Linked DNA regions of Homo sapiens: all the other regions are linked to region 5. The links come from fine-mapping of genetic effects on gene expression. A gene starts in region 5. Each other region holds a variant in brackets. All regions are shown on one strand. Distances are between the middles of the regions. Region 1 overlaps LOC105375318 (a long non-coding RNA gene). Region 2 has its middle 48 kb from the start of ZNF736. Region 3 overlaps ZNF680 (zinc finger protein 680). Region 4 overlaps LOC105375315 (a long non-coding RNA gene). Region 5 holds the start of ZNF736 (zinc finger protein 736). Region 6 has its middle 68 kb from the start of LINC02848.

Region 1 (5,400 bases), 380 kb before region 5:
TAACCTAAAAACTATCCCCTTTCAATGCCAGTGGGCTGATGAAAAAAATAAAAAGAATAAAAAACCCATTTACCCCAATGCACTATCCTATACAACATATGCTATTGCTTTTAACAAAAATTAGAAGCCAAGACATCCCTTTTTATCTTTAGTGAGAATATTTATTTGTGTTAAAACCAAATTAAGGTCCCAGTGTGGAGTTCAGGATGCTGGGACCTCAGACCATGCTGGGCGCCCGCCTCCCGCCCGCCGTGGCCCGACCGCGTCCAAGAAGGCCCAGCGGAGGCTCCGGGGAAGGCGACCCTGGCAGGCGGCCAGGCCCGCGACATCGAAATCGGCGTCCGTTGCCCACGGAGCGCGGGAGGACGCACCTGCAGCCCGACGAGCGCTCGCACCCGCGGGACACGGCGCATGGATTCCGCGAGTACACTGTCGCGGCCACGGCATCCCGGGCCAGCACCGCGGCCTCGGCTCCCTGCTCTGCCGCTCTATCCCCAAGGCGGCTTTGGGTTCTGAATGTTCCTGTTCCTCAGCAGCCAGACGAGGGATGCCCAGGGACGGCCTTACAACAACGCAGGCTGCTGTGCGGCTGGGGCGCCCGCGTGGCCGGGGCCGTGGTGGTCATATTTCCCATGGACGCCATCAAGGTGAAGTTCATCCACCGCCAGACCTCCCCAGACGTCCAGTGCAGAGGAGTCTCCCACCGGGGTTAGGGAGATTGTGCGGGAACAAGGGGACCCAGCGGGGCCTCACGGCCCCCGCGCTGAAGCAGGGCTGGAACCAGGCCATCCGCTTCTTCTCCTGACCCCCCTGCATAGCTGGTACCGAGGGGACAACCCCAGCAAGCCCATGAACCCGCTGGTCGCTGGGGCCTTCGGAGCCATTGCAGGCGCAGCCAGTGTCTTGGGAAACGCTCCACTGCACGGGATCGAGACCCGGATGCGGGGCCTGAAAAGCACAAATGCAGAACACACGGGACTGCGGCTGCAAATCCTGAGAAAGGAAGGGCTCAAGGCCTTCTACAACGGCATTGTCCCCCACCTGGGCCGGGTCTGCCTGGATGTGACCACAGTGTTTATCCTCTGCCATGAGGTAGGAAAGCTGCTCAACAGTGTGGAAGACGGAGTAAGCCCGGAAGGGCCTTGAGGGGACCGCCCCAGGCACCTCCAGAGCGGCCACCACCCTTGTCTCACAGGATTCCAGTGCAGAAATGCCAAGCGGCCCCTGCCCAGGTCCCTCGAGCTCTGTGACCTGCCTTGTGCATTATGACGTCAAGTCTGTGTGTCCCCTAGGGCCATGTCGCCCCGTGGTCTGTATGTGACAGCGGCCCTGTGTCCACTTGTCTGGCCCGGTGTTGGCTGGATGTCCATCTGGCCTGTGAGTCTGTGCCCCCTTGTCCATGTGCTTACTGTGAGCCCTGGGCCTGTGATTCATGTTCTGCGTCATGTGACACTGCGCCCCACCTCCCAGGGTGCCCGTGTGGCCTGGGTCCTCGAGCCTGTCGCCCTGGCCCAGTCCCAGTCCACTGCCTTCCACCCTGCCCTGGGCTACCACAGCTGCCTCCAGGCCTCGGCCTGGTTTCACCGCATTCTCGGGATTACACCCCTGACCCCCAAATCCCGCCCCCCACCAGCGCTTCTCCCACTATTGGCTTAACTGGCCCGCTGGCCCTCCCTACGCCCAGGAGAGGGTGACACCCACCACTCTCAGGATCACCCTGCCAAGGCAGAGTAAACCGGATCCTATTGCAAAAAATAAAAAATAAAGTATGAAGCACAGAAGAAGATAAGGTACGAGGAAAAAGGGTTAGAAGTTTTTTTGTTGTTTTTTTTTTTTTGAGACAGAGTCTTGCTCTGTTGCCCAGGCTGGAGTGCAGTGGCACGATCTTGGCTCACTGCACCCTCCACCTCCCGGGTTCAAGTGATTCTCCTTCCCCAGCCTCCCGAGTAGCTGGGATTACAGGCACGCCCCACCAAGCCCGCCTAATTTTTGTATTTTTAATAGAGACGGGTTTCACTATGTTGCCCAGGCTGGTCTGGAACTCCTGGCCTCAAGTGATCCTCCCACCTCGGCCTCCCAAAGTGCTGGGAATACAGGCGTGAGCCACTGTGCCTGGCCGGTTTGGAAGAAATTTGATATCACATAAACTTTGCATACTGGAAATATATTTATAATATTTTAAATGTAAAAAGTATTATAAATATATTTATATTTATAAATATTAATATAAAATATTAAATTTAATTATTTTAAATGTTTAAGTAAAAACAAATGGGGAAAAGATGATATCAAAATAATTTTTGAAAGAGCAGGAAACTATAAACTGAACAAACAAATTTGGAAAAGAGCAAATAGAAATGGAATAATTTAAACATAAAGAAATTTAATATACAATATGTGAGTTAATTATAAAATTAGACTAAGTTGATGATGAGAGAATTAGTAAACTGGGTTAATGAATTGGAATTTTGAGCAGAACGAATATAACCAAATAAAAGGAAGAGAAACAAAATAATAGCAATATGTATGCAATTATACATATGTGAAGAATAGAAAGAGTAAAGCACAATTATTTCACTTGAATCCATACAAATAATGTCATACTAATAAATAATTATTTACAAATTTCTGAAATTAAAAACCAGACATGTGCCTAAAAGAGACACTGTGCCTGAAAGAGAGCAATAAAGAGGCCGGGTGCGGTGGCTCATGCCTGTAATCTCAGCACTTTGGGAGGCCAAGGTGGGCGCAACATTTGAAGTTAGGAGTTTGAGACCAGCCCGGGCAACATGGTGAAACCT[C/T]GTCTCTACTAAAAATACAGAAAAATTAGCCAGGCATGGTGGCCAACACCTGTGATCCCAGCTACTCTGGAGGCTGAGGCAGGAGAATCGCTTGAACCTGGGAGACTGAGGTTGCGGTGAGCCAAGATTGCACCGTTACACTCCAGCCTGGGTGACAGAGAAAGACTCCATCTCCGAAAAAAAAAAAAAAGTGAGAGAGCAATAAAGAAAGATATCCAACACGATAAGTCAAACTGCATAACACCAAAGAGAATGAAGAAAATTAAAATCCATGAGAGAGAGAGAGAGAATCTACACAGGTGAGAATAAAATCTCCACAGCCCATGGCAGAGCCAGAAAACTGAGAAGGAGATACTAAGAGTGCTGAAAAATTATTGTTCAACCTATAATTGAATACACAACTAGCATATTTTTAAATAAATAAGGGTAAACTAAATAACCTTCGAAAGTAAACACACACACACACACACACACACACACACACACACACACACACACAAAGAGAAATTTCATCTACCAACAGGAGCATCTTAAGTGTACACTTTAAGAAGATAGAAAAGTTGTCTTATATAAAATTTAGGGAATCAAAATTAAATGTAAGAAACTTGTGGACAAAGGGAACTATGATGTTGGACTTTGAACTAAAGAAACCACCAAGTTCTTGGCAGCATAGTTTTCAAAAGTATTAAGATGAAATAAAAGTGTAATAAAATAATATATCAAATCGCCTGCTTCTTGAAAAATTTGATGTCAAAATCTGTTTTTCAGATAATTGTTTTCATAATTTATTAATCATCTATGATATTTATATCACACATTATGCAAAATTTTGATTATTCTTTTATCAGAACTAATTAGCATAAAAGGGCTAACAGAAATTGCCCACAAGCATCTGGACACCCACGATGACTGAGTCATAAGCCCATAACAGGGTTGAGGATGATGAGATGATAAGGTCCACCCAGTACATGACCACAGAGCAACTCACCAGCAACAGAATGGTCTGTGTGGCCCTTTTCTCTGGGGAGGCTTTTGCAGAGAGGTTGGTGCTGGGAAGGTACTGGGGTTGTCTCTGATGTCTGGACAAAATAATTACCATGTATGCCCTTGAGAGAAACATGATTGCTACAAAGAAGACATCTGTAAGTAGTGGCAGCATGAAAAACAGGCTCCTGATGTTGTCCCTTATGTAAGAAAGTGAACAGTATTTACTGATACTTAGCACGTTGCTATTGGTCACATTAGAAGAGGCCACAGTGGAGGAGGGCAGGTTATTACTGAGAAACAAATTGAGAACCCAAAGAAGTGAAAGATGCAACGTGTGAATTTCTGTTTAATTCTTGCCGACCAGGAGGTGCTGGAGCTAATGGTGACAGCCTGGAACATACTCCGGAAGCAGGTGGTACAGATGGAGAGCCCTCATCCCTCTATGCATGTAGAATACCTTACGCTTGAAGTCATTCTGAAAATACTGTGACTCAAACAGGTCTGGAGATGCCAAGAAGCTCACAGTGAGGAGCATCACTAAGTGGACAAGGGCCAGGTGACAGGTGATGAGGTCAGTGGGCTTAGACCTGCAGTCCAGAGGGAGTGTGCAGATACAGAAGAAAAGGAGGAAGGTGTTGGCTGTGAGTCTAATACCGGCTTGGAAAAAAAGGGCAATTTTTAATAGTATCATAAGTGGAACAAGGTCATCTTAATCATGAAGAGGAATCATACTTTATATATCTGAAAAAAGCAATAGATATCCTATCATCACTATTTATTGCATGGTCAAAATTATTACCAACATTATCATTTTAATTTTACCCATTTATCTCGATTAACCCCAACTATCTTATATAAATTCTTTAAAATGTAGCCTGAGCTTTATTTTATAACAAATAAATATCATAAAATACATATCTCAAACATCCACACATCCACAATCACACCTATGTAGGGTGCACATTATCTATACTCATATAGTACTTGTGGCTCACTCCTCAGAAAGCATTTCCTTCCTTTCTGAATTTCTCAAATCGCTGAACATTCTCAGGTCTCGAATTTTTTTCTTCGTAAAAGCTTTTCAGCTTCTAAGAATATATATATTTCAATGCTCAAAGACAAAAAACTGTCCACTAAAAATTTTATCCTCAGAAAAACTATCAATTAAAAATAAATAAAAATAAAAACATTTCAGATAAATAAAAACTGAGGCAATTTCTTGATAGCAGACAGATCATTTGAGAAAGAATAAAAATAAGTTTTCAGGCTGAATGCAAGTAATCCCAGATAATTTCAATGCCCCAAAAAGACAAAGAGGACTAGTAAATGTAACAAATATTTAAGGCAATATAAGAAATATTTTTTCTCATATTACTGATTGTCAAAAGCAACTTTGTAATATTGTTTGTAATTGCATCTTCAGTGCAATTTATATAACATAAAGAAATTTAATTTATTTGCCAATAACAGCACAGAGAAGGTGGGTTCAAAAAAAGCTATATTGGGCTAAGAAAATCTGTCCAGGTAATAACTTGTATCCACAAAGATTTAAAAAAATACATTAGTAAAACTGAAAGATTAAAATAATACCATGAATAATAAGAAGTTTAAC
Region 2 (5,400 bases), 48 kb after region 5:
TCAGTGTGCTTCAAAGCTCACCAAGGCATCAGCTATGGAAGGATGCAGTTGTTCTCTTACCACTCTCATCCAGGCCTCTTTTCCTTAGATGCACAATCAGTGGAATACCGAGAAAGATGAGTAAGAAACACATCATGGTCAGAAGCATGATTAATGCCAGAATAAGCAGTGACCACTTGGAAAGCAAAAGGGAGCATTTTTCTTTCTCCTGTGGGTAGTCCCTGACTTCTGTCATTACTTTCTGGATTCAGGAATGATTTTTAAGTTCATCCTGCCTCTGGAGGAACCGTAGGCCCTGAGTGGTAAACACCTTCACTTAATCCTGCAACAAAGCTTTCTCTTGACAATCATGACCTCTGTGATCATGAGCTTCTAAGCAATCTGGACAATACACAACCTGAAAACCTATGGAAGGGAGATGAGTAGGTCTGAGGGAAACAATTTCCCACTTTTTCCCTTGGCAAGTTGAAAAAATTATGATGGCAGACAAATGTGCAGAAGAGGACAGCATACTATAATTCCTCATCATGTGAGTTTGCAACTAAGAGTTTTTAATCCTAGCTGTGAGAGCTCCGAATGAAAACCAGAAGTTACGTCACTGCATCTATCAGTGATTAGATTGCACAACATTTTGTCTGTCATACTGAGGAGTCTTCACTGAGGATTTTCCCATTGAACATATAAAGACAGGAAAGGGTAAAATAGCAACCCTATGAAATCATTAAATACAATGTAGAAATGTTCATCTTCTCACATGATTAGCATTTTTGCACATATTTGCATGTGTATCTACCCATAAAGCTGACATTTTCATAATTCAGTTATATGTCAAGTTAAAATTTTTTTTTTTTCTCAACTGGGCACAGTGGCTCACATGTGTAATCCCAGCACTTTTGGAGGCTGAGGCGGGTGGATCACCTGAGGTCAGGAGTTCGAAACCAGCCTGGCCAACATGGTGAAACCCTGTCTCGACTAAAAATACAAAAAAAAAAAAAAGTTAGCTGGGTGTGGTGGCACACACCTGTAATACCAGCTGCTTGGGAGGCTGAGGCAGGAAAATCACTCGAACCTGGGAGGTGCAGGTTGCAGGTTGCAGTGAGCTGAAATCACGTCACTGCACTCCCCCCTGGGTGACAGAGCAAGACTCCATCTCAAAAAACAAAAAAATTCTTTTATAACAAAGACACACATATTGTCCAGACATGCCCTGGTGCAGTGGAGTGGGTGTGGCCCTCTCCTGGGAAAGAAGTCAGTGCCCTGGATTATGTGTGGGGGATCCATTGGGACACAAAGAGGCAGTCAGGGTCTTGGCCTGGCAACACTAAGACTTCCAGGGGGCTTCAGAAAGCAGCAGAAATGGCCCATGACACTGAGTGCCAGATGGGCCTGTAACAATGAAAGATCTGCCGAGGGATCTTAGCAATCTTCCTAGGAGGCCCTGACTATACCCTGGGTTGGAGACTCCTGGGGTAGAGTGGCTGCCAGAGAGCCTCAGCAAATGAGTCTTGACCACTATGGCTAGGCCAATGTAAAATAGCTCATCCCTTCTGTTTTACAAAGCAAAATACAGAAAAATAAAGTGAAACAAATGAAATCAAGAGAAAGAAAATAAAATTTAAAAATAAATTTAAAGTAATTGAAAAACAGGACAAACTGAAATAAAGAAAAACAAACGTAATTAAGATCAGTGAAAATAAAATGAAGATGAAGATACTAATTACAATAAAAACAGAAGTAAACAAATGCAATAATTTGCAATAAAATAAAATTTTAAGAAATGAGAAATGGAAAAAGAAACATGGAGAAAAATAATAGGGGATATGAATGGAAATAAACAAGAAATTAAAACATGACAAAAATTCTAGAAAATTTGAAATTAAGAGAATGTAATGAGAAAAAAGAAAAAGAAATAAAATTAATAGAAAGAAAGTAAAAAAAGAAAATAAAGATAAAGGCAAATGCAGAGAGAAATAAAAGGTTAAAAAGAAAAATAAGACCTGGGAATAATCTACAAAACATTTCACTTGACAATAGCATAATACGTAATATTTCTAATTGCATATGGCACATATTCTAAGATAGGCAAACTTCTAAGCTGGAATGCAAGTTTTAGTGTAAACAAATGGTAATCATAAAAATATTATTTCTGACTACAATGAAATATAACTGGAAGTTAAAAGCCAAAAGAAAACTAGCATACCTGCATATATATGAAAACTCGACAAATTCTTTAGCATACTATTTTTCAAGAGTTAGAACATGCAAGTTTCTTTAGATGTTAATGGTATTCGAAATGATCTACAAATCAATGAGATCTCTTTCAAAAAAACCAATGGTACTTTTTGCAGAAGTACTAAAATATTCTAAAATGTTTGAGTCAATATTTAGCTGTGTCACCCAGGCTGCAGTGCAGTGTCATAATCATGGCTCAGTGTAGCCTTGACCTCTCAAGCTCAATTGATTTTCTCACCTCAGCCTTACAAGTAACTGGGACTGCAGGTGTATGCCACCAGGCTCAGCAAGTTTTTGTATTTTTTGTAGAGACAGAGTTTCACCATATTGCCCAAGCTGCTCTCAAACTCCTGGGCTCAAGCAATCCACCTGCCTTGGCTTCCCAAAGTTCTGAGATCACAGGACTAAGCCACCAAAATATTGCCCTATAATTTCTATAAACACTCAAAAAAAACCACAAGTAGCCAAACAACCTGGAAATAAATGATAAACTCAGAGGCATAATTCTTTTTTTGTTTAAAAATATATTGCAAATTTACAGTAATCAAAATACTGTGGTGTTGGCATAAAGACAGAAAAATGTTGAAACATAGAAGCCAGAAAGAGACCCACATGTGTATACTAAGCTTATCTTAAATGAGGGTTCCAAATCTTCATGTTGCAGAACTTTCCTTCAGCAAAATTGGGTTCTTGTCACATGACTAGGAAAGATTAGGCTCAGAGACACTCTGAAGGGTGAGGAGTAGAGTTGATTGGGTTAAAAACCAGAAAAAAAAAAAAGTGAGTCGGAGTCCTGTTTAAAGGCCCCCACCTCCTAGATTGGTGAACACCAGACCATCACACA[G/C]AAACTGAAGAGGCCAGGCTCCTCCTCCCTGCACAAGGGGTAAACTTTCCATGGCTCCACTCCCTTCCCCCCAGTGTGCAGGTGGACATTATTCAGTTAGAAAATTATTCATAATCAGTTAGAAAAAGGCAGGCTTCATCTGGGACCAGCAGTCTGATTTTTTAGTCTTCAGGCTGTTTTAGGCTTGAAGATGGGGTTTCACCCAGGACCCTTGGCTGTTTAACTCTGTTATTTCCCCCTCTAAAGAAGCACATCTAACTGCTGTTAGAATCAAAATAAAGATAAGGACAAAAAACCATTTTTAACTGCTTCCTGATGACAGGGGACACTGTTTTGGAAAAATGGCAGTCAGATCTCCCTAAGAGGCCTATCTAAGAGTTCCCTGTGAAAGGGGCCATTGTCCAAGGCTCTGGTTGTGTGACTCTTTGAAGTTTGGTAGCCTGAAGGTGGGAAGAATCAAACTGGGTTATTTAAAAACATGTATTAAAACGAAACAAGGGGAAGGTGGCAAGGAAAGCTAAGAAATCCCAAGGTCTTTTACCAGTTTGCATAGGGAAAGGGAGACCAAAAGCCCAACGGGGGAAAGAAAGAAAGAAAAAAAAAAACACCTTTTACCCTTTTGCCAGCATGTCAGGCTTCTGGGTTCTTTTGTCTTGAGTCCAATCCTAAGCCACCCAGTCTAAGGTTTGGAAAATTAATTCTTCCAAGCTTGGAGGATGCATCTGAGGGGACCGTCCCATAGTATGAAGACATGATTACCTATCTGTAAAGAGAAGACAGAGGGGATAAAAGGAAAAAAGCATGTTTTCAAAGGAGTCCCAAGGGTTCAGGATGCATTCGAAAAGGATATAGACTGAAGATGAATGAATGGTTACTCATCTAGAAAGAGAGGAGCAGGTGTCCCTGGTTCCTTTTTCATCCTAGCAAATACCCAGGTATGTTGACAGAAGAAAGAATGTTCTCTTTTCCCCTTCCATCCTTGTATCCCCAAGTCCCAGTGATTGTGACAGGGTGCCACCCATTGGTGTCCAAGCAGCTTCCACCCTGGTTAACAGGGAGGCCTAGGGGGGTGGAAATATTTGCTCTTATCCTATTTCCCCTTCTGTCAGTGGTTCTGGAGTTCACTAGACCTCACTTATTCCACAGATCCTAGCATGATATTTATCTATGAAATGGGAGGCTTGGTTTAATCGGCTGGAATTAGTCATGCTCACCTGCACTGTGCCTTTTAACCTCCATTATCTGCCTGTAGATTTCTCAGATCCAGTATTCTTTCCTAAGGCTTCAACTTGAAGCTTGGAATTGAGGTTGGGACAAAAATATGTCTCAGGGGATTGCATAGACTCCTTACCATGAGCTGAATGCTAAGATGAAGCTGTGGAATTAAGTCCTCTTTCCACAAGGGAGAGAAAAGAATGTCTTTTGACACACCCAGATAACTAGTGGCTATAGTTATGCTTGCTGAGATTGCGATGGGCACCCTATTTATTCCCATTCCTCTGCAGGATTTGCAGAATAATTGCCCAGAAGTAGAATATTAATCCAGATTTTTACATTACCCATCCCTTTTTGTTTCTTCTGAGCTGCAGTTGAAGATCGCCAGGTGGTTCACCGGAATAAGCAGGATTGGTCTAAAATGTAGGCAAAAACTCAAAACTAATGAGTTTAGAATTTAATGACAATTGTATAATAAGTTTTGAAACATAATCTTTATCCAGTCCTCTTTTCTGTTAAAAACGAATCATGACAGGACTGAGTTATTTGTGAAATAAACATTAGTCTTATACTTGGCCTGATTATTTGCATAAAGTGCAGCAAGAATAATTATTTTTACATAGGTCTTTTACACTGGCTTCGATGGAACTCTGTTCCACAAGAAATTTTACATAGGACTTTCTGAAGTCAAGCCCAGCCATGGGTTCGTACTATCAAATACTTATGAGTTGGGTGATCCTCTCCTCTTGTGGTCCCAAGATAAACTTGGGGCTCCTGGGCCTATCAGAAAGTGTCATTCTTTACTTACCATAGATCAGGAACGGAACCCTGCACAAGGACTGTGTAGATGAGTTATGAGGCCAGTTTTTCCAAGGGGCTTTTATTGGCTCTGCAAGTTGAGCTTGACTCCATAAAGGGAAGCATACCCAATGCAAACAGCCATATTGCCATAGGTTAAGAATACTCACACTATTTTTCAAATTCTGGAGAAGCCAGGCAGAGAGAGACAAACATGCTCCAAATTTTGTTCACAGGAGTACACCTTAGTCAAATATTAAAGGCTGTAAATAGCTCAACATAAGTTTCTTTGATGCTGGTAAACAATACAA
Region 3 (5,400 bases), 230 kb after region 5:
GAAAATGAAACACACAGGCTGGGTGTAGTGGCTCAAATGTGTAAACTTAGAACTTCAGGAGGCCAAGGCAGAAGGATTACCTGTGCCTAGGAGTTTGAAAGTAGCCTGGGCAACAAGGTGAGACCCTGTCTTTAAATTTAATTTAATTTAAAATAAAATAAAACATACTCTTTGACATAGTTTTGCTCAAGGGTCAAAAAATTTAATTTTGTTAAGATGTCAATATAACCTAAAGTGGTAAAAAAATTCAATATGATCTCTATAAAAATCCCAATAGCACAGTTTTTTTTACAGAAATGTTTAAAATTTTTTAATTTGATTATGATCATAACTAGCTAAACAACCATGAAAAAAAAGCATTATACTTCCTGATTGAAAAACATATTAAAAGCTACAACAGCAAAAACAATGTGGTACTGACACAATGACATATAAAGAGATAAAAAACAGAATAGACGGCCAGGTGCGCTGGCTCACGCCTGTAATCCCAGCATTTTGGGAGGCCAAGGCGGGCAGATCACAAGGTCAGGAGATCGAGACCATCCTGGCTAACACAGTGAAACCCTGTCTCTACTAAAAATACAAAAAACAATTAGCCGGGCGTGGTGGCGGGCGCCTGTAGTCCCAGCTATTTGGGAGGCTGAGGCAGGAGAATGACGTGAACCCGGGAGGCAGAGCTTGCAGTGAGCTGAGATAGCACCACTGCACTCCAGACTGGGTGACACAGCAAGACTCCATCTCCAAAAAAAAACAAAAAAACAAACAAAAACAGAATAGAGAGCCCAGAAAAGAACGCTTTTGTGTATGATCAAATGATCTTTCACTAAGTCACCATTAACACATGATAGAGAAAAGATAATCTTTTCAAAAAAATAACGTTGAAATCAGGTTATCTACACTGATAAAGCTGAATCCTTTCCTTGAACTATATACAAAGAATATTTGAAATAAAATATTTAGAAATTTAAAAAATAACAATCTCTTAGAAAAAATATAGGAAAAAAACATGACATTGGTATTGGCACCATTTTCTTAGATACAACATTAAATGCATGAGCAACAAAGAGAAGAACAGAATAACTGAACTACACAGTACTTCAAAATTTCTGCATATCAAAGAAAACATTCAAAAGAGTAATGATGCCTCCTAGGAAATGGGTGAAAATATTTGCAAATCACATGTGATAGGAGTTAATATTCAGAATATATAAACAACTATTAAAACTGAATTATAAAGTTGAATAACAACTTAGAAGTGGACAAATAATTGAACTAAATTTTCATCAAATTGATACAAATGCAAAAAAGCATTTGAAAGGATACACAAAATACTAATTTGTAGACAAATGCATGAAAATCACAATGAAAAACAGAATCCTCTTACACCCATTATAATAGCCACTATAAGTTTTCTAGAAAACATCAAATCAGTTGATGATGCAATGAAAATTTGCAACAAAAACACGTTAATTGTTGGTGCAAAACAAGGATGCAACCATTATTTACAAATGTTATAAATGTTCCTCAAATAATTAAAAATGGAATTATTAAATACAGCAATCCCACTTATGGATCTACATCCAAACTATGCAACGCAGGACCTGGAAGACATATTTGAACATTTATGTTTCTTGTACCAGCATCACAAAAGCCAAAACGCGGCCAGGCACAGTGGCTCACACCTGTAATCCCAGCACTTTGGAAGGCGGAGGCGGGTGGATCACCTGAGGTCAGCAGTTTGAGACCAGCTTTGCCAACATGGTGAAACCTTGTCTCTACTAAATATACAAAATTTAGCCAGGTGTGGTGGTGGGTGCCTGTAATCCCAGCTACTCAGGAGGCTGAGGCAGGAGAATCACTTGAACCTGGGAGGCGGAGACTGCAGTGAGCCAAGATTGTGCCATTGCACTCTAGCCTGGGAGGCAGAGCAAGACTCCATCTCAAAAAAAAAAAAAAAAAAAAGCCAAAATGCTGAAGCAATCCAGATGTTGATTTATAAATACATAAAAAAAGTAACATATGTATACAATGGAATATTATTCAGCCTTAAAAAAAAATCTTGGGAAGCTGAGGGAGGAGAATTGTTTGAACCTGGGAGGTAGAGGTGAGCCAAGATGGCACCACTGCGCTCCAGCCTGGGCAACAAGAGCAAAACTTCGTCTCAAAAAAAAAAAAAAAAAAAAAAAAGAAAAGAAAATCTTGTCCCATTTTATTATAAATGTTGAGAATTATGTCACCTAAAATGAGCCAGTAACAAAATGATGGGTACTGTATGATTCCACTTATGAGATATCTTAAGTAGTCACACTCATAAAAACAGAAAGTGGAAGCGTGTCTGTCAAGGGCTGAAGAGAGGGTAAAATGGGCAGTTGTTACTTAATGTGTACTGAGTTTTAGTTTTACAAGATGTAAAACTTTTAGAAGTATTTTGCCTAACAGTGTGAATACACTTAACATGCTCGAAATGTACAACTTTTATTCAGACAGGATCTCACTCTGTCACCCAAGCTGGAGTGCAGTGGCACAATTATGGCTTACTATAGCCTTAACCAGGCTGAAGTAAATCCTCCCCCATCAATCTCCCAAGTAGCTGAAACCACAAGTGCACACCACCATGCCTGTCTTTAAAAATAGTTTTTTTTGTAGACTGGGTCTTTATATGTTGCCCAAGCTGGTCTCCAAATTTTGGGCTCAAGTGATACTCCTGTCTTGGCCTCTCAAAATCCCTGGATTACAGATGTAAGCCACCACCATGCCTGGCCCTGAAATGTACACTTCAATGAATTTAAGATGGTAAATTTTATGTTATATTTTCACAATTAATTTTTTAAAAGAAAAACTGAAAAAATAAAGATTTATAAATCTTTTCAAAAATTATCTTCAAATCACAAACGTGTTTCTCTCATGCAAAAGAAATATATATTCATCATTAAACAC[A/T]TGGTGAAAAGAAGGCGATTTCCATGACTACTCATTTAGATATGATCGGACAACCATTGAAAATCAGCTAAGAAAGAATACCTACAAAATAAGCCATAACCAAAATGGAGGTCATATTTGTAGATAAAAGCACACACATATACAAACTGATTGTGATAGACATATGGCTGATTTATCCTTTTTTTTTTTTTTTTTTTGAGATGGAGGCTCGCTCTGTCGCCCAGGCTGGAGTACAGTAGTGCAATCTCAGCTCACTGTAACCTCTGCCTCCCAGGTTCAAGAGATTCCCCTGCCTCAGCCTCCCAAGTAGCTGGGACTACAGGCACCCGCTACCACACCAGGCTAATTTTTGTATTTTTAGTAGAGATGGGGCTTCACCATATTGGCCAGGCTGGTCTCGAACTCCTGACCTTCTGATCCACCTGCCTCGGGCTCCCAAAGTGCTGGGATTACAGGCATGAGCCACTGAGCCCGGCTGATTTATCTTTTAATTAAACCCCATGTTGACTTAAAGTTTACAAACAGAATTGCAAAATGTCTAAATATATAAGTAAAACAAAAAATCACAATAAACTGATGTTTAAAAAGTACACTAAATAAAACACTAATATGGAACTGCAAAACAATAACTAAAGAAGTTTACTCACAAAATCTGCTTTGCAATATTTATGTGCCATTAAAAAATTTGTCTAGATAATTACAATATTTGACTATGTGTACTCATGGAAAGCAGGTATTTCAAATCATTGGCATGCGCTGTGTTGCAATAAAATTTCAGGAAAAAAACAGTATAATTATAAATAAAAGATTCTAACAATAAATTTATAATAAACAAAAATTTACAAGAAATTAGTATTTATGTTTTAAATATATGCTATTCTTACACAAAATAAAACTACTGTAATCCAACTTTAGAAGCAAAACAATAGTCTTGCATTGCTAAATTTAAAAATTATATATTTTGCAGAATATGGTTAGCACTTCTTATATATAAAACAAATATTTAGAAATTAGTTATGTTGTTATTTAGATATATGCTTAAGTGGGTGAAAATCCTGTAATTCCTGTTTGCCTGAAGCAAACTTAAATTTATAAGTAACATCAACCATATCATGTAAATTCTAGCATATTGTCCTAAATGTCTGAACCTAAAGTACAGAAAAATTTGAAATAGAAAATAGAAAGTAAAAATGTATAGGGAGAGTGACATCAGTAAGATGGAAAAATAAAAGGTTCCTTATTTGCTTATCATCCCACAGCAAGAAAATTTATCAGCCATCCCTGTCAAAAATGCATTTATGTGAGCCATGGCTCACACCTGTAATGACAGCTACATGGTACATTCAGGTTGGGGAACTGCTTCAGGCCAGGATTTCAAGACCAACCTGGGTTATGAAGCCAAAACCCATCTCAAAAATAAGTGCCTTTAAGAGAGCTTTGAGATCCAGAGAGGGTGTTGTGAAACTGCTACAGTCTAAGATTAAGGAGTGTTCTTTTCAGAAGGCAGGCCCTCATTCAGGTGGAAAAATACAGGACCCCTGTTCTAGGCTGCAGACCAGGAAATGGCCCACCAAATTTGGTCCCACTGAGAATTCTGAACTTACTCTCTAATCATCCCAAACTCCTCCCAGCCACAGTCTGGGAGAGACCGTGCCCTTCCAGAGGCCTGGAGGAAGACAGCCATTTATAGCCACGCAGGCAGGCCTGCAGACCTTGTCCTTTACTGTGGTTTCTGAAGCAGTTCGATGACTCAGTTCCAGCTCCCTGAGCCACAGTTCACGGCCAGTTCTGCCTATAAAGGAACCCACACAGTGACCTGAAAAAATTCTCTTTGATACTCAGTGAAAGCCATACTCATCCACATTCTGATATAAGGCCCACCATATATAGACCCAATTACAAAAACCTGCCCTACTGTCTGCCCTACAGAGCAACATCCAGAAAAATATTTAGTCTGTTCCAAAATATAATGAAAATTACAATTACCCAAGCCCCTGTTAAGCCAACTAAAGGTGAGCCCTAGTGCAGACCCAGCAGCCTTGTGACCAAGCTACGCCCCTCTCCACTACAAACCCAGAGGACATCCCATCACCCTGAGAACCCAACAAAAAAAATCTTTACCTTCTAAACCAGTTTATAAAAACTTAAAGAGGTGTTTGCTCCTTTAAATTCAGACACCAATGCAAAACTATATTGTACCCACTGTAAATACTTTATTTTAACATAGAACTGCAAGTATGTGGCAGAAAAATTAGTCAAAAAAAGTTTTTAAACTCACTGAAATTGAAGACAAATGAGTAAAAACTTGCTGCTTATCGATCATATGCTCTTATATATAAAAAATTATAAACAGTACACTAAAACCTGTTTAAATTAATAAATACATTCAGTAAATTAGCAAAATATAAAATTAACATACAAGTTTAAGTTATGGTTCCATACACTTAAAGCAAACTGATTATT
Region 4 (5,400 bases), 580 kb before region 5:
GAAGAAGTTGAATCTCTGAATAGACCAATAACAGGATCTGAAATTATGGCAATAATCAATAGCTTACCAACCAAAAAGTCCAGGACCAGATGGATTCACAGCCGAATTCTACCAGAGGTACAAGGAGGAACTGGTACCATTCCTTCTGAAACTATTCCAATCAATAGAAAGAGGGAATCCTCCCTAACTCATTTTCTGAGGCCAGCATCATCCTGATACCAAAGCTGGGCAGAGACACAACCAAAAAAGAGAATTTTAGACCAATATCCTTGATGAACATTGATGCAAAAATCCTCAAGAAAATACTGGCAGACTGAATCCAGCAACATATCAAAAAGCTTATCCACCATGATCAAGTGGGCTTCATCCCTGGGATGCAAGGCTGGTTCATTATACACAAATCAATAAATGTAATCCAGCATATAAACAGAACCAAAGACAAAAACCACATGATTATCTCAATAGATGCAGAAAAGGCCTTTGACAAAATTCAACAACGCTTTATGCTAAAAACTCTCAATAAATTAGGTATTGATGGGACGTATCTCAAAATAGTAAGAGCTATCTATGACAAACCCACAGCCAATACCATACTGAATGGGCAAAAACTGGAAGCATTCCCTTTGAAAACTGGCACAAGACAGGGATGCCCTCTCTCACCACTCCTATTCAACATAGTGTTGGAAGTTCTGGCCAGGGCAATTAGGCAGGAGAAGGAAATAAAGGGTATTCAAGTAGGAAAAGAGGAAGTCAAATTGTCCCTGTTTACAGACGACATGATTGTATATCTAGAAAACCCCATTGTCTCAGCCCAAAATCTCCTTAAGCTGATAAGCAACTTCAGCAAAGTCTCAGGAAAAAAAATCAATGTACAAAAATCACAAGCATTCTTATACACCAATAACAGAGAAACAGAGCCAAATCATGAGTGAACTCCCTTTCACAATTGCTTCAAAGAGAATAAAATACCTAGGAATCCAACTTACAAGGAATGTGAAGGACCTTTCAAGGAGAACTACAAACCACTGCTCAAGGAAATAAAAGAGGATACAAAGAAATGGAAGAACGTTCCATGTTCATGGGTAGAAAGAATCAATATCGTGAAAATGGCCATACTGCCCAAGGTAATTTATAGATTCAATGCCATCCCCATCAAGCTACCAGTGACTTTCTTCACAGAATTGGAAAAAACTACTTTAAAGTTCATATGGAACCAAAAAAGAGCCCGCATTGCCAAGTCAATCCTAAGCCAAAAGAACAAAGCTGGAGGCATCACACTACCTGACTTCAAACTATACTACAAGGCTACAGTAACCAAAATAGCATGGTACTGATACCAAAACAGAGAGATAGATCAGTGGAACAGAACACAGCCCTCAGAAATAACACCACATATCTACAACTATCTGATCTTTGACAAACCTGAGAAAAACAAGCAATGGCGAAAGGATTCCCTATTTAATAAATGGTGCTGGGAAAACTGGCTAGCCATATGTAGAAAGCTGAAACTGGATCCCTTCCTTACACCTTATACACAAATTAATTCAAGATGGATTAAAGACTTAAACATTAGACCTAAAACCATAAAAACCCTAGAAGAAAACCTAGGCATTACCATTCAGGACATAGGCATGGGCAAGGACTTCATGTCTAAAACACCAAAAGCAATGGCAACAAAAGCCAAAATTGACAAATGGGATCTAATTAAACTAAAGAGCTTCTGCACAGCAAAAGAAACTACCATCAGAGTGAACAGGCAACCTAGAAAATGGGAGAAAATTTTCGTAACCTACTCATCTGACAAAGGGCTAATATCCAGAATCTACAATGAACTCAAATTTACAAGAAAAAAATAACCCCATCAAAAAGTGGGCAAAGGACATGAACAGACACTTCTCAAAAGAAGACATTTATGCAGCCAAAAAAACACATGAAAAAATGCTCACCATCACTGGCCATCAGAGAAATGCAAATCAAAACCACAATGAGATACCATCTCATACCAGTTAGAATGGCAATCATTAAAAAGTCAGGAAACAACAGGTGCTGGAGAGGATGTGGAGAAATAGGAACGCTTTTACACTGTTGGTGGGACTGTAAACTAGTTCAACCATTGTGGAAGTCAGTGTGGCGATTCCTCAGGGATCTAGAACTAGAAATACCATTTGACCCAGCTGTCCCATTACTGGGTATATACCCAAAGGACTATAAATCATGCTGCTATAAAGACACATGCACACGTATGTTTATTGCGGCACTATTCACAATAGCAAAGACTTGGAACCAACCCAAATGTCCAACAATGATAGATTGGATTAAGAAAATGTGGCACATATACACCATGGAATACTATGCAGCCATAAAAAATGATGAGTTCATGTCCTTTGTAGGGACGTGGATGAAATTGGAAATCATTATTCTCAGTAAACTATTGCAAGGACAAAAAACCAAACACTGCATATTCTCACTCATAGGTGGGAATTGAACAATGAGAACACATGAACACAGGAAGGGGAACATCACACTCTGGGGACTGTTGTGGGGTGGGGGGAGGGTGGAGGGATAGCATTAGGAGATATACCTAATGCTAAATGACGAGTTAATGGGTGTAGCACACCAGCATGGCACATGTATGCATATGTAACTAACCTGCACATTGTGCACATGTACCCTAAAACTTAAAGTATAATAATAAAATAAAATATATATAAAAAATAAGTAAAATAAAATAAATAATAAAAAAAAATGAGCCAGGGATGATAGCATATACCTGTAGTCCCAGCTACTAGGGAGGCTGAAGTGGGAGGACTGCTTGAGCCTGTGAATTTGAGGTTACAGTGAGCTGTGATTGCACCGCTGCACTCCAGCCTTGGTGACAGAGTGAGATCTTGTGAAAGAGAGACCGAAAGAGAGAAGAAACAGAAAAAGAAAAAACATGAGCATGGTGGGCATGGGGACAGATGGCAATGTTAAATAGAATGGTCAGGGGTGTCCTCCTAAGTGAAAATTGAGCAAAGACTTGAAGGAGGGGAAGGAGTTGGCCAAGGTGC[T/C]GAGGGAAGAGGATTATAGGCAGAAAAACAGGATAAAGTGTCTGAGGTGTGTCTGAGGCTCTAGAAGGAGGCCAGTGGAGCAGAAGGATAGAAGGAATTAGGGGAAGGGATCAGTACATATCACATAAGCCCTGGGAGGTTATTGCTGGGGCTTGGGCTTTGGCTTTTATTCTGACTGAGATGGGAACTGTGGGAGGGTTCTGAGCAGAGAGGCGACATGATCTGTCTCCTGATTTGAAAGCATTCTCTGGCTGCTCATTTTAGAAAGGCTGTGGGAAGATTTGGGTAGAAGCATGGGGGCCAAGCTGTGGCAACATCCAGGCAGGAGATATTAGTGGTCTTGACCAGGGTCGTGGTGGTGAGAGATGGTCAGAGGAGAGAAGTAGGGGAGGAGGCCAGGGAGTTGCTGGGTGGGAGTCCAGTACGTGGTGAAGACAGTCAACAGGATTTCCTGACAGACTGGATGTGGGGTGTGAGAGAAGGCAGGGGTCAAGGTTGAGTTTGATTCTCACTGAATTATTAAGTAATTTTAAAAAAACACTACTGCCTTTCTCAATCCTACCAAGTATGGGATGCTAGATTAAAGAAATCTCTTCATTTTCAGTGCAGTGGCTCATGCCTGTAGTCCCAGCTGTTTGGGAAGCAGAGATGGGAGTATCTTTTAAGGACAGGAGTTCAAGACCAGTGTGGGCAACATAGCAAGACCTCCTCTCTACAAAAATGTTTTTCAAAATTTAATAAAATAAATGTAGGTAGGCATGGTGATGTATACTTGTAGTCCCAGCTACTCAGGAGGCTGAGGTGGGCAGATCTCTTGAGGTCAGGAGTTTGAGGCCAGCTTGGGCAATATAGCAAGACCCCTCACTCTACAAAAAATTTAAAAAATAGCCAGATATGGTGGCACTCAACTGTAGTACCAGCTACTGGGGAGCTGAGACAGAAAGATGGCTTGAGCCCAGGAGATTGTGGCTGCAGTGAGCTCTAAGTACACAACTGCACTCCAGTCTAGGTGACAGAGCACGACCTGTCTCACAGTACAAATAGAAATACAAATAAAATAATGAAATCTCAAGTTAGAGCCTTTTGTCTCTGCAGCCCTTGCAACCCCGGAGCTGTGCAGTGGGGTTTGTCTCTGGGAATGAGGAGACCCCTGCCCAGTGTTGTTGCCTGACTAATCATAGTGTTTTTAAAAATGTATTAATTGGGGTGGGTGCAGTGGCTCATGCCTGTAATCCCGGCACTTTGGGAGACCCAAGGGGATGGATCACCTGAGGTCAAGAGTTCGAGACCAGCCTGGCCAACATGGTGAAACCCCGTTTCTACTAAAAAAAACACAAAAATTAGCTGGGCATGGTGGTGGGCACCTGCCCAGCTACTTGAGAGGCAGAGGCAGGAGAATCACTTGAGCCTGGGGGCGGAGGTTGCAGTGAGCCGAGATCGCGCCACTTCACTCCAGCCTGGGTGAAAGAGCGAGACTCCATCTCCAAAAAAAAAAAAAAAAAGTATTAACATGTAATGATTTTATTATTAATATGTAATGTATATTAAATATTTTTAAAAACTTGTATTATATCAACATGTAATGGTTTTATTAATATGTGATAATATTTTTAAAATTTAGTCATTTTCTAATTTTAATATATTTATGTAAAGAAAAAGTCTTAAGAGATCTTCAATAAAGTTAAAAAATGTAAAAGGATGCTAGACCCCGAAAGATTGAGAACTTCTAGTTTAGAAATATTCCAAGTAAGCCACATACAACTTGCTACTTAATCTATTTTCTTTCTTTCTTTTTTCTTTTAGGAGATGGGGTCTCACCCTGTCACCCAGGCTGGAGTACAGTGGTGCCATCACAGCTTGCTGCAGCTTTGAACTCCTGGGCTAAGGATCCTCCTGCCTCAGCCTCCTGAGTAGCTGGGACTGTAGGTATACATGATGACACCTGGCTAATTTTTAAATTGTTTTGTAGACATGGGGTCTCACTTTATTGGCCAGGCTGTTGTCAAACTCCTGGCCTCAGGTGACCCTTCTACCCCTGCCTCCCATCCTAGAGGTATGAGCCACGACAACAAGCACTTGTTCAATTTTCTAAAAAAATAAAAAATGTCTAAAGGCTGTGGGATGATGGCAGGAAAAGTAGAAAAACAGAAAAGTTCAAATAACTTACTCACACATATTCTTTTGACAGCAAGGAGAACTTTTAGTATATATGTTCCTTACAAAAAAACAAAAGGCAAATAAACTGTTGTATAAGAACTTCAACACACACTGTACAATATTCCCACCTTGCTGACATCAGTTATGGAAATTCTTCGTGGTTTACTTGACTATCGCTATCAGTATTTTGCTT
Region 5 (5,400 bases):
TTGATCTCCTGCAGCTAAAGGGGGGGACAAGTGGAAGATGCGGATAGGAGGGTCCAGGAGACAGGGGATTATGAGATTTCAGGGGACAGGCCTCGAAGGGACACCCAAAAGTGAGTAGTCATCCCCATCACCACCCGACAGCACAGGGTGTTGCCTCCATCCTGGACACATTTTCCAGTTATCTGGTGATGGGAAACCCTGCCAGAAAGGATTATATGGATGGGAGTGAGCCTGGGATGGGCAGGGCTGGAACCAGAATCCTGAGGCTTGGGAGAAGAGAATCAGGACTACACCCTTAGATCTCAGCACTTGGCAAACTTCCTCTCATGAGAGCGTCACGGCTGCCTCTGTGAGCTGAGGTATCAGGCCCCTCTTCCCTATGAATGTTGAAGATTCCACACCAGCCACCAGTCCCTGTTCCCTGAGTGATGAAGCTGCAGAGCTGTCTGCTTGCAAAGCCCAGTGAGGTTTTGCCTGAGCTGGACTCAGACTCTCCCTCAGATGGTGCCAATGGAAGGATAGTAAACTTAGGCCTCTCCAAGGGCAGGCAGCTCGTATGTGGCTGAGCACTTTTGTTTTTTGTTTTTTGGTTTTTTTTGAGATGGAGCCTCCTCTGTCACCCAGGCTGGAGTGCAGTGGCATGATCTTGGCTCACTGCAAACTCCGCCTCCCAGGTTCAAGCAATTCTCTGCCTCAGCCTCCTTAGTAGCTGGGATTACAGGTGCCCACAACCACGCCCAGCTAATTCTTGTATTTTTAGTAGAGACGGGGTTTTGCCATCTTGGCCAGGCTGGTCTTGAACTCCTGACCTGGTGATCCACCATCCTCAGCCTCCCAAAGTACTGGGATTACAGGTGTGAGCCACCGTGCCTGGCCTGGCTGAGCACTTTTTTAAATGGGAGCCCTCAGTTTTTATGTCTGTCATCAAAGAGAGTTGGGGTGGGAGGTCCCTGAGCCTCAGCTCCCATTGTCCCCTTTGAACCCCAGAACCTGCTGCAGACCCAAGTCCTGCTTTGTGCACATCCCCTGCCCCTGGTGGCCCTGGCAGTAATGCAGTATGAAGAGTGTGGGGAGGGGACCTAGTCAGGGTCCAAGGGGCCTTTCTGATGACCATTGGCTGACTTCTAGGGAAATGTAACACCCAGAAAGAAAAGGAAGGTGAGCAGCTGGGGCAACATTGGGAGAGAGTGGGGAGGTGAAAGTCAGCAACACCCTGTGCTATCAGGTGGTGATGGGGATGAGTATCCACTTTTGGGTGTCCATTCAAGGCCTGTCCCTGAAATCTCATAAGCCCCCATCTCCTGGACTCTCCTATCCACATCTTTTACTTGAAAAAGCCAAAGACACGCAGCTGCCTCTCTCCAACTCTCTCCCCTCTTCCTAGCTGGCCTCCAAAAACATGAAGCACTCCCTTATTAACTCTGTGGTGAGATTTTAACAAGTCACAATGTTATGTGGTCCCTAGCTCCACCGTTTCCCAAATCCACTCAGCCCAGCTCTTCCAGGCCTTTACTCTGATTTCTCTTATAGAGGCATTTCAGGGACTGTTGCCACAGGAGGGAAGGGCTGAGGGAGAAAGGCCCCTTGCTCTTTTGATGTGGAGGCCTCCAGCTGGGAGGGAGGAGCTCTTCCCTCTGAATCCCTGGAGCTCTTCCCCATCACAGGTACCTGCCTTTTTGCTGCTTTAGCCTCATCTGGGCTTTCTGTGGTTTCTTCTCTAGGGTGGCCAACTTGGGTGTCTTCCTCTGCCAGGGTCAAGGACAAGGTCAGTGATATTATGCTCCCTTCACCCAGTTATGCCCAGTTACATTGACCTGGTACCCTGGATAACTGGTGTGAGTCAAGCTGGTCCAGTGCTCCTGCCACCTCCAGTAAACTCTGATTCTAGATTCACTCCCTGCTGCAACACTCACTGTGTGTGGAACCTTGGGCATGCAGCCAGGCCTCCCTGAGACTGTTTCTCAACTTGAAAGTGTGATGGGAACCACACCTACCTCACTGGGCCTCGTGAGGACTCAGTTATATGTAGCCGTCACCATTGTTCTCATCATCATCTCTCTCAGGAAGAGCCAGGCACAAGCACTCTCAAATTTTTCTCCTTTGAAGCTCCTCATTACCCTGTGAGGCTCATCATCCCTACATTTTTTAGATAAGAAAACAGAGGCCCAAAGAGGGCAGTGACTTGCCCAGGGCTCTACAGAAGAGGCCGGCTCCTCCCCACACCTGGAGGCCCTGACCTAGCTGACTTTACCCCACAGCCCAGCACTATCCCTGACTAGGGTCCCATCTTGGTTCTCCATGCTTGTTTAGGTCCTCAGGCAGGCTCAGCTTTGGTGGGAAAGAGACAGGGTGTTTTGGGAGGCCTGGGCGAGTGGCACCTCTAACCAATCTGCTAGGCCCTCACCTCTCAGTCTCACTGAGACACTCCATTAATTGGAAGCAGACCCAAAATTGCTTCACAGACTGAAGGTGATAATTGTCTACAGCCAGCTGAAGCAGCTGCATCTCCTGGAGGACTTTGATCTCCTGCAGCTAAAGGGAAAGACAGGATGCTGAGACAGGGCCTGCAGCATACACATAACTATAATTCAGAATGTAATATATACACACACACGAAAATATAATCAGAAAGTGATATAATCTTATATGCAAGGTTAAATACAAATGTCTCTCAGGCAGGGCCAGGCCCCCAGCACAGGGAGGACTCGCCTGAAAACGCTGCAGGCAAAAACCTGTCACCCTTGCCTCATTCAGCCCAGTGTCTGATTACATCTTCTGTCACTTAGGATTGAAACGGGTGGGGCCTGGAGCCCTAGCCAATCAGTGGCGCCAGCGTGAAACTGTCCAATCAAGTGCGCAGCTACAGAGGAAGAGGCGGCCTCTTCAATATGGCGGGGCCTTTGTCTCCTAGCTTCCGGGCTCTGATCCTAGTTCGCGTCTCCACTGTTCCATCTCCTCCGTTCCTGGAGTTCCTCGGTGACTCTACTATAGCTTCTGTTATCCTGTGACCTGCAGGTACTGGGAGATCCATAGGGAGGACGGCGGAACATCTGGAGGCTGGGAAATGGTGAGTGCGTGGAGTGGGTGTCCCGAGAATGGGGAAGAGGCTGTTTGAATCCGGCCGGAACCGGCTGCGGTGGTATCTGGGCCTTCTCGCGGTCTGCTCTGGAGTCTGCATCCCCGAGTCCCCGCGGGCACAGCTCAATCCTCATTTCCCTCCATCGCAGATTAGGGGCTGAGCCAGCAGCCAAAACGCTACGTCTTGTTTTGTCCCTAAACTCGAATTTCTCCCCAGCTCAGATCCCTTCCTGGGCAGCTCTGTGCCGCAACCTCGAGTCTCCCTCCTCCAGATTGTGTGGGGGTGTTGGGAGTGTCATAAGACGGGAATTCTCATTTAGGGTCTGGAGTTCCTCCGTGGAAGAAGCAGTGGGCCGTGGGGTCCCTAGTCCCTCCTTTCTCCTTTTAAAAATAAAATCATGGCCCTTTTTTAAATTTATTTATTTTTGAGACAGTGTCTCACTCTGTTGCCCAGGCTAAAGTGCATTTCGGTTCACTGCAGCCTCCACCTACTGGGCTCAGATGATCCTCTCACCCCAGCCCCCCAAGTAGCTAGGACTAGAGGGGTGCGCCACCACGCCTATTTTGTTTTGTTTGTTTTTGTAGAGACAGGCTTTTGCCATGTTGCTCAGGCTGGTCTCGAACTCCCCGAGCTCAGGTCTCAGGTGATCCGCCCGCCTCGGGCCTCCTAAAGTGCCGGGATTACGTGCATGACCCACCACCCTAGCCTAAATTGAGGCAACTTTAGGATATAATTTGGATGTGTTTTCCAGCCCAAATCTCCTATTTAAATGTAATCCCCCATGTTGGAGGTGGGGCCTGGTGGAAGGATTGTGGGCCCGGATTTCTCACGAATAGTTTAGCACCATTCCTCTTGGTATTGTCCTCTCAATAGTGAGTGAGTTCCCTGAAGTTCATCATTTAGAAGTGTACAGCACCCCACCTTGCCTCTTTTTCAAGCTCTTGCTTCACCTTCATCCATGATTTTAAGCTTTCTGGGTGGGGCCTCCCCAGAAGCAGACGCTGGTGTTATGCTTTCTATGCAGCCTGTGGAACCATGAGCCAATTAATCCTCTTATAAATTACCCAGTCTGAGGTATTTATAGTAATGCCAGAAGCGATTAATACAAATAGTTTACTTGCACAAACAGTAATTTATCAATCAGAGAACACCCAGCTATGATTTGTTGTTTGGGGGCTCAAAGGAGGGTCTTGGAACAAAAGGTTGTTTTTTTTTTTTAAGAGGTATGAGGAAGCAAACCAGATTCAATATTTGATTGGTTACAGTTACGTATTGCATTTGCAGCCCTCCGGTGGAAATGTCCTGGTTATGTAATTAGAGCTTTTTATTGGCAGCTTGTGGTTGGTTAAGCCTAAGTTGTTTTGTTGTTGTTGTTGTTGTTTCTCAAAGTTAATAATTTACCAGAAATTCCTTCGACGTAGTTAGGTTTCCTTAGGCAGAATCCCAGGGCACCATGGCCACTTCAGCCTAATTGCTAGCTATTTAATTATTTTAATGCTCCACAGGGTCGTTGGTTTTCTCTGCATTTTTCAAATGTTTGGCAAGCAGGGTCTCAAATCTAAAACTGTTCTCCCAGCCTAACTGTTCTAGGGACTGTATAAAATTCTAAATTTCCAATTTCTTTCCCACATTCCCAAATGCCAACTATCCCTCTCCAAATCACATTATGAACTATCAGTTCTTTATTTAATTTTAAAACGGATGTGGCATTTTGTTTATTTTTGTTTAACAGAGCCGTGGGTGGCTCTTTTTAATATATTAGTCTGTTTGTGCATATTTCACAGGACAGAAAAGCAAAGAGTAGTCACCTGACACTGCGCATCTCCTCTCATCTTCTCTAGGCACGCGCGCCTTCCCAGAATGTCTTTGGATCCTTTGCAGGGTGATGTGTCCTCAGTCACTCTCCTGTGTTTTCCTGGTCCAAGTATTACAGCTTTCTGGGGATGATCCAAGATACCCACAAGGACCATATCTCTTGGAGTGTCTAGCAAACATTAGCCCCTGGGTCATCTCCTTTCAGAGAAGAGCCTGAGGCATTGGGTGGAGCCTCTCAGGGGAGCAGCTGGATGCCCTCGTGCTGAGAGCAGTTTCCTGATTCACCCTTCCTCTAAAAAGCTAACTGCTTTAACATTAAGATTTTTTTCCCCTCAATCCTAGTTTTCATTTCTTGCAGACACATTGGTGGTCAACCAATCAGGTGCTGATATTGAGGGGAAAAGGCACAAATGCATCTTGCCCTCTGGTTTCTCTCAGGCTTGTGAAGGAGAATAACTGTCCCAAAGTACAGGAAAGATCCACTCTAGTGAGGGAGTGTATAAATT
Region 6 (5,400 bases), 480 kb before region 5:
CAGCATGTTGGGAGCCCGAGGCAGGCGGGTCACCTGAGGTCATCAGGAGTTCAAGACCAGCCTGGCCAACATGGTGAAACCCCGTCTCTACTAAAAATACAAAAAAAAATTAGCCAGGTGTGGTGGCATGCACCTGTAATCCCAGCTACTCAGGAGGCTGAGGCAGGAGAATCGCTTGAACCTGGGAGTCAGATGTTGCAGTGAGCTGAGATCGTGCCACTGCACTCCAGCCCAGGTAACAGAGCAAGACTCCATCTCAAAAAAAAAAAAAAAAAAAAAAGACTTTAAGACAAAAGTAGTTACTAGGGCAAATAAGGACATTTTACGATGATAAAAGGATCAATTCATCAAGAAGATATGGCAATTATAAACACTTAGGCACCTAATAACAGAGTTCTGAAATACCTGAGGCAAAAAACTGAGAAAATATAGGACAAAAATAGATTTACCAATAAAAGTGGGAGATGTGATTACCCACTTTCAATAATGAATAGAACAACCAGGCAGAAGATCAAAGAAGCAAAGAAATAGGAACTGGAAGAGCTTTGCAAACCACCTAAAACTCTCTACCCAACAATACCAGAACACACATTCTTCTCAAGTACACATTCTCAGGAGAGGCCATACATTAACACATAAAGAAGTCTCCATAATTTTTAAAAGATTAAAATGCACAGTATGTTATCCAACCACATGGAGGTCAAGGCTACAGTGAGCCCTGATTGCACCATTGCACTCTGGTCTGGGTGACAGAGCAAGACCTTGTCTCAGAGAAAGAAAAAAAAATGAAAAGGTGGCCACATAATAGAAAAATATAATTGCAAATTATATATCTGGTAAGGGACTTGTATCCAGTATGTATAAAGAATTCTTATAACTTCACAATAAAAGACAATCCATTTAAAACATAGGTAGAGGACTTGAATAGAGATTTCTCCGAAGAAGACATACAAATGGCTAATAAGCACATGAGAAGATACTCAGCTAGTCTGGCCAACATGGTGAAACCCTATCTCTATTAAAAATACAAAAGAGCCCAGGTGCAGTTGCTCTTGCCACGAATCCCAGCACTTTGGGAGACTGAGGCGGGCAGATCCCCTGAGGTCGGGAGTTCAAGACCATCCTGACCAACATGGAGAAACTCCGCCTCTACTCAAAATACAAAATTAGCTGGGCATGGTGGCACATGCCTGTAATTCCAGCTACTTGGGAGGCTGAGGCAGGAGAATTGCTTGAACCCGGGAGGTGGAGGTTGCAGTGAGCCAAGATTGCACCATTGCACTCCAGCCTGGGCTACAAGAGCAAAACTCTGTCTCAAAAAAATAATAATAATAAAAATAAAACCATAAAAATACAAAAAAAAATTAGCCGGGCATGGTTATGATGCCTGTAATCCCAGCTACTCCGGAGGCTGAGGCAGGAGAATTGCTTGAATGCAGGAGACAGAGGTTCAAAACCAGCCTGGCCAACGTAGTGAAACTCGGTCTCTACTAAAAATACAAAAATTAGCTGGGTGTCGTGGCAGGTGCCTGTAATCCCAGCAACTCAGGAGGCTGAGGCAGGAGAATCTCTTGAACCTGGAAGGCAGAGGTTGCAGTGAGCTGGGATCGTGCCATTGCACTCCAGCCTGGGCAACAAGAGAGAAACTCCATCTCAAAAAAAAAAAAAAGTAAAAAAAGAAAAGTTTGACAGCCCTTCAAATACTGCCAGGTTCCATGATGGCCCTGGATCCTGCATTGAAGAAACCATATGGGCAGATCCCAAGCCATCACAAACAACATATAATGCACAAGAAGGAAAACTCTGTTGCTGTAAGCCAATGAGATTTCAGGGTTGTTGCTGCAACATAACCTGGTGAAAGCTGACCAACAGCCCAGAGAAAGATGCTCAATCCATTTCAAGGCATAGAGAAGTTCCTGGATCATAATAAGGGTTCAACAGTGTTTATCACTGCAAATATACTCTGACTTTCAACATATTAGGTTGGTGCAAAAGTAATTTCAGCGTATTAGGTTGGTGCATTAAAAGCAATGGCAAAAACCGCAATTACTTTTGCACCAACCTAATAACTTCTCAATTTGCACTCACTCAATTTAAATGAAAAGCCTTTTCCTTGGATCCTTGAAAACATTCTGTCCTAGAACATCATCAGGCTAAGGATCGGAAGGCACGTGTTTCTGCCCTAGCTCTGCCCCATGACTCTGGTCACAAGGCTTGCTTTTTCTGGGGCTCTGTTTCCTCGTAGACAATTACCAAGGTTCCTTCCAGCTCAAAGAAGCTTCTGAGTCTACAGACAAACAACTACTAGAATCTTCCATGTCAGTCAACAAATGTTAGCACCATCAGTCATGAAGCTGGGTGATTTGGGGACCTCAGCTTCTTCATCCTTTTTTCCCTTTACAGGATTTATGTCAGGCTTTACCCACTGTCCATTTTCAAGGCAATGTCATTTTTTTAATAGGTTCCTACAGCAAAGCACAGTGTTTTTATTTTTGTTTTTCTAAAATTAAGTTGGGTCACAAAACTGTTAGAGGAAAAAAAAGTGGTTTCCTAGAGAAGGGAGAATGCTTTATGGGGGTTATAAAAAATCTTTGGCAGCTTGGCACGGTGGCTCAGTCTTTCCCAGCACTTTGGGAGGCCGAGGTGGGCAGATCACCTGAGGTCGGTGGTTCGAGACCAGCCTGACCAACATGGAGAAACCCCGTCTCTACTAAAAATACAAAATTAGCGGCCGGGCGCGGTGGCTCACGCCTGTAATCCCAGCACTTTGGGAGGCCAAGGCGGGCGAATAACGAGGTCGGGAGAT[G/T]GAGACCATCCTGGCTAACACAGTGAAACCCCGCCTCTACTAAAAATACAAAAAATTAGCCGGGCATGGTGGCGGGCGCCTGTAGTCCCAGCAACTCGGGAGGCTGAGGCAGGAGAATGGCATGAACCCAGGAGGCGGAGCTTGCAGTGAGCCGAGATCACACTACTGCACTCCAGCCTGGGCGACAGAGCAAGACCCCGTCTCAAAAAAAAAAAAAATTAGCTGGGCATGATGGCACATGCCTGTAATCCCAGCTATTCGGGAGGCTGAGGCAGGAGAATCACTTGAACCTGGGAGGCGGAGGTTGTGGTGAGCCAAGATCACACCATTGCACTCCAGCCTGGGGAACAAGAGTGAAACTTCGTCTCAAAAAAAAAAAAGAAAAAAATTGGCTAACCAAGTATGTCTTTAACTTATAGGACTAAATAAAAAACCAGGGCATCATCGAAGTAGAAATCTGAAATGCTGTGGTTGGCAGAGCTCTGGACTGAGAACTAAAGTCCTGGATTCCAGCTCAGTTTTTTTGTCATTAGTCAGCCAGGTGACCTTGGGCAATCACTCGATTTCTCTAGGTTTCGATTTCCCTGTGTGGGAGCAATAAAGGATCTCCAAAGTCCAGTCAATCAATCAAACCATCAAATTAGATAGTGGTGATGATAACATGACTCTGTTATGATACTCAAAGCTGTGGAATTGTGTACTGTGAGAGGGTAAATATTATGGTATGTAAATTATATCTCAATAAAGTTGTTCATACAAAACCATCATGTCAAAGAGCTTACAGTCATGTGAGCATGGAAGAAACTATGCTAAACAAGTCAGTAAGGCCACGTGCAGTGGCTCACGCCTGTAATCCCAGCACTCTGGGAGGCTGAGGCAGGCGGATTACAAGGTCAGGAGTTTGAGACCAGCCTGACCAACATGGTGAAACCCTGTCTCTACTAATAATACAAATATTAGCCAGGCGTGATGGTGTACACCTGTAATCTCAGCTACTCAGGAGGCTGAGGCAGGAGACTTGCTTGAACCCAGGTGGCGGAGGTTGCAGTGAGCTGAGATCATGCCATTGCACTCCAGCCTGTGTGACAGAGTGAGACTCCATCTCAGAAGGAAAAAAAAAAGGGTCAGTAAATTACTCAGCATATTAGGTGGCAATAAGTGCTTTCTGGGGAAAAGTGGAGCAAGGAATGGGGACATGGAATGACAGCTAAGTGGGAGACAGTTATTAAAAGATGGTGGTCAGGGAAGTCCTCACTGAAGTGACATTTGGGTAAAGACTGGAAGGAGATGAGGGAGTGAGTCAGGAATATGCAGGGAACAGCATTCCAAGCAGAGGGAACAGCAAATGAAAAGACGGAGGCAGGAGAGAGCCTGGAGTCCTTAATGAGGAACAAGAATGTGTGGCTGCATAGAGTGAAATATGGGAAAGGAGTAGAAGATGAGATTGGAGGATGACGTGGGGTAGAAGGAAGAGTGGGAGGACCATGTGGGAAGTTGCAGGAACTAACTTCAGCTTTATTCTCAGTGGAAAGCAGCAGTGGGTTTTGACCTGAGAGCCAATTTGATCAGAGGTTTTTATTTTTTGTTTTTTTTTTTATTTTTAGTTTTTTTTTTTAGAGTTGGGGTCTTGCTCTGTCACCCAGGATGGAGTGCAGTGGTGCAATTATAGCTCATTGCAGCCTCCAACTTCTGGCCTCTAGTGATCATCCCACTTCAGCCTCCCAAGTAGCTGGGAATACAGGTGTGCACCATGACACCCAGATACTTTTATTTTCATTTTTAGATTCGTAGAGATGGGGTCTCACTATGTTGTCCAGACTGGTCTCGAATTTCTGGCCTCAAGCAATCCTCCTGTCTTAGCCTTCCAAAGTGCTAGGATTACAGGTGTGAGACACCACACCTGATCCTGACCTGTGTTTTATGGGATCTTTCTGGCTGCAGAAGAGAATGGACTGAAGAGGGGCAAAAGTAGAATAGGGAGAGCAAATAGGAGACTATTGCAATTGCCCAAGCTCAAAAAGATGAAGTGATTTACCCAAAACGTCCAGAAGGAGTGTGGGGCAGCTGGCCTCTAGCAATGGGCCCGGTGAACCATAGTCACACCCTTGTGGAGTCTCCTCCCATAGTGAATTGATGCTGGCCTCTGACTTGCTTTAAACAGTAGAAGGAAGTCATGCTCTGTGATACCTGAGCACAGGCATCTACCATTTTTGCAATTGTGGGGGTGCTCTGAGCTGCCATGTTGAAGTCCAGCTATCCTGGGAGAGGGACCATGAGGGAGAGGCCCCATGGATAGGAGAGGTTATCCTAATGGGGCTTCCAGGTGACTTCAGGCCCAATGACCAACGAGGTGGCTGCAGTCACCCAAAAGCCAGACCCACAGAACTGCCTGGATAACCCACATAATTAAAAAGTAACAAGTGGTGGTCTTTGCTTTAAGCCTCTGAAGTTTTTTGTTTGCAGCAATAAGCAATCGAAACAGAAAGCTAACTGCATAACATCAAATAATTGACTTTATTAATATTGCTAATAAATTGGCCTAGCAGGTGTCACATACAAGCACTCACAAGGCTCCTTATTTTATGATAAGGGAC

Evidence for each region. PIP is the estimated chance that this variant, and not a neighbour inherited with it, causes the effect.
Region 1: its variant is fine-mapped to the expression of ZNF736 in esophagus muscle (GTEx, PIP 0.99).
Region 2: its variant is fine-mapped to the expression of ZNF736 in whole blood (INTERVAL, PIP 0.98).
Region 3: its variant is fine-mapped to the expression of ZNF736 in lung (TOPMed, PIP above 0.99).
Region 4: its variant is fine-mapped to the expression of ZNF736 in CD4 T cells (BLUEPRINT, PIP 0.95).
Region 6: its variant is fine-mapped to the expression of ZNF736 in subcutaneous fat (GTEx, PIP 0.97).

What each region holds. Positions count from the first base shown.
Region 1 is chr7:63,930,853-63,936,252 of GRCh38, forward strand. The region is part of intron 1 of LOC105375318 (a long non-coding RNA gene); the gene reads left to right. It also overlaps the pseudogene SLC25A1P3 and the pseudogene VN1R34P. Among named protein-coding and RNA genes, the nearest start is that of LINC02848, 34 kb to the left of the region's middle. The variant C/T (reference allele first, on the strand shown) is at 2,802.
Region 2 is chr7:64,359,123-64,364,522 of GRCh38, forward strand. No RefSeq gene overlaps it. Among named protein-coding and RNA genes, the nearest start is that of ZNF736, 48 kb to the left of the region's middle. The variant G/C (reference allele first, on the strand shown) is at 3,077.
Region 3 is chr7:64,537,189-64,542,588 of GRCh38, forward strand. All of the region lies in intron 3 of ZNF680 (zinc finger protein 680), which reads right to left. Among named protein-coding and RNA genes, the nearest start is that of ZNF680, 23 kb to the right of the region's middle. The variant A/T (reference allele first, on the strand shown) is at 2,938.
Region 4 is chr7:63,735,892-63,741,291 of GRCh38, forward strand. LOC105375315 (a long non-coding RNA gene) reads left to right here. Exons shown (of 4, transcript XR_927571.2): 4 at 3,655-3,735. Among named protein-coding and RNA genes, the nearest start is that of MIR4283-2, 120 kb to the left of the region's middle. The variant T/C (reference allele first, on the strand shown) is at 3,051.
Region 5 is chr7:64,311,087-64,316,486 of GRCh38, forward strand. ZNF736 (zinc finger protein 736) reads left to right here and starts at 2,875. Exons shown (of 4, transcript NM_001170905.3): 1 at 2,875-3,067. The coding sequence starts at 3,065. RefSeq lists an enhancer at 2,928-3,107.
Region 6 is chr7:63,829,221-63,834,620 of GRCh38, forward strand. No RefSeq gene overlaps it. Among named protein-coding and RNA genes, the nearest start is that of LINC02848, 68 kb to the right of the region's middle. The variant G/T (reference allele first, on the strand shown) is at 2,807.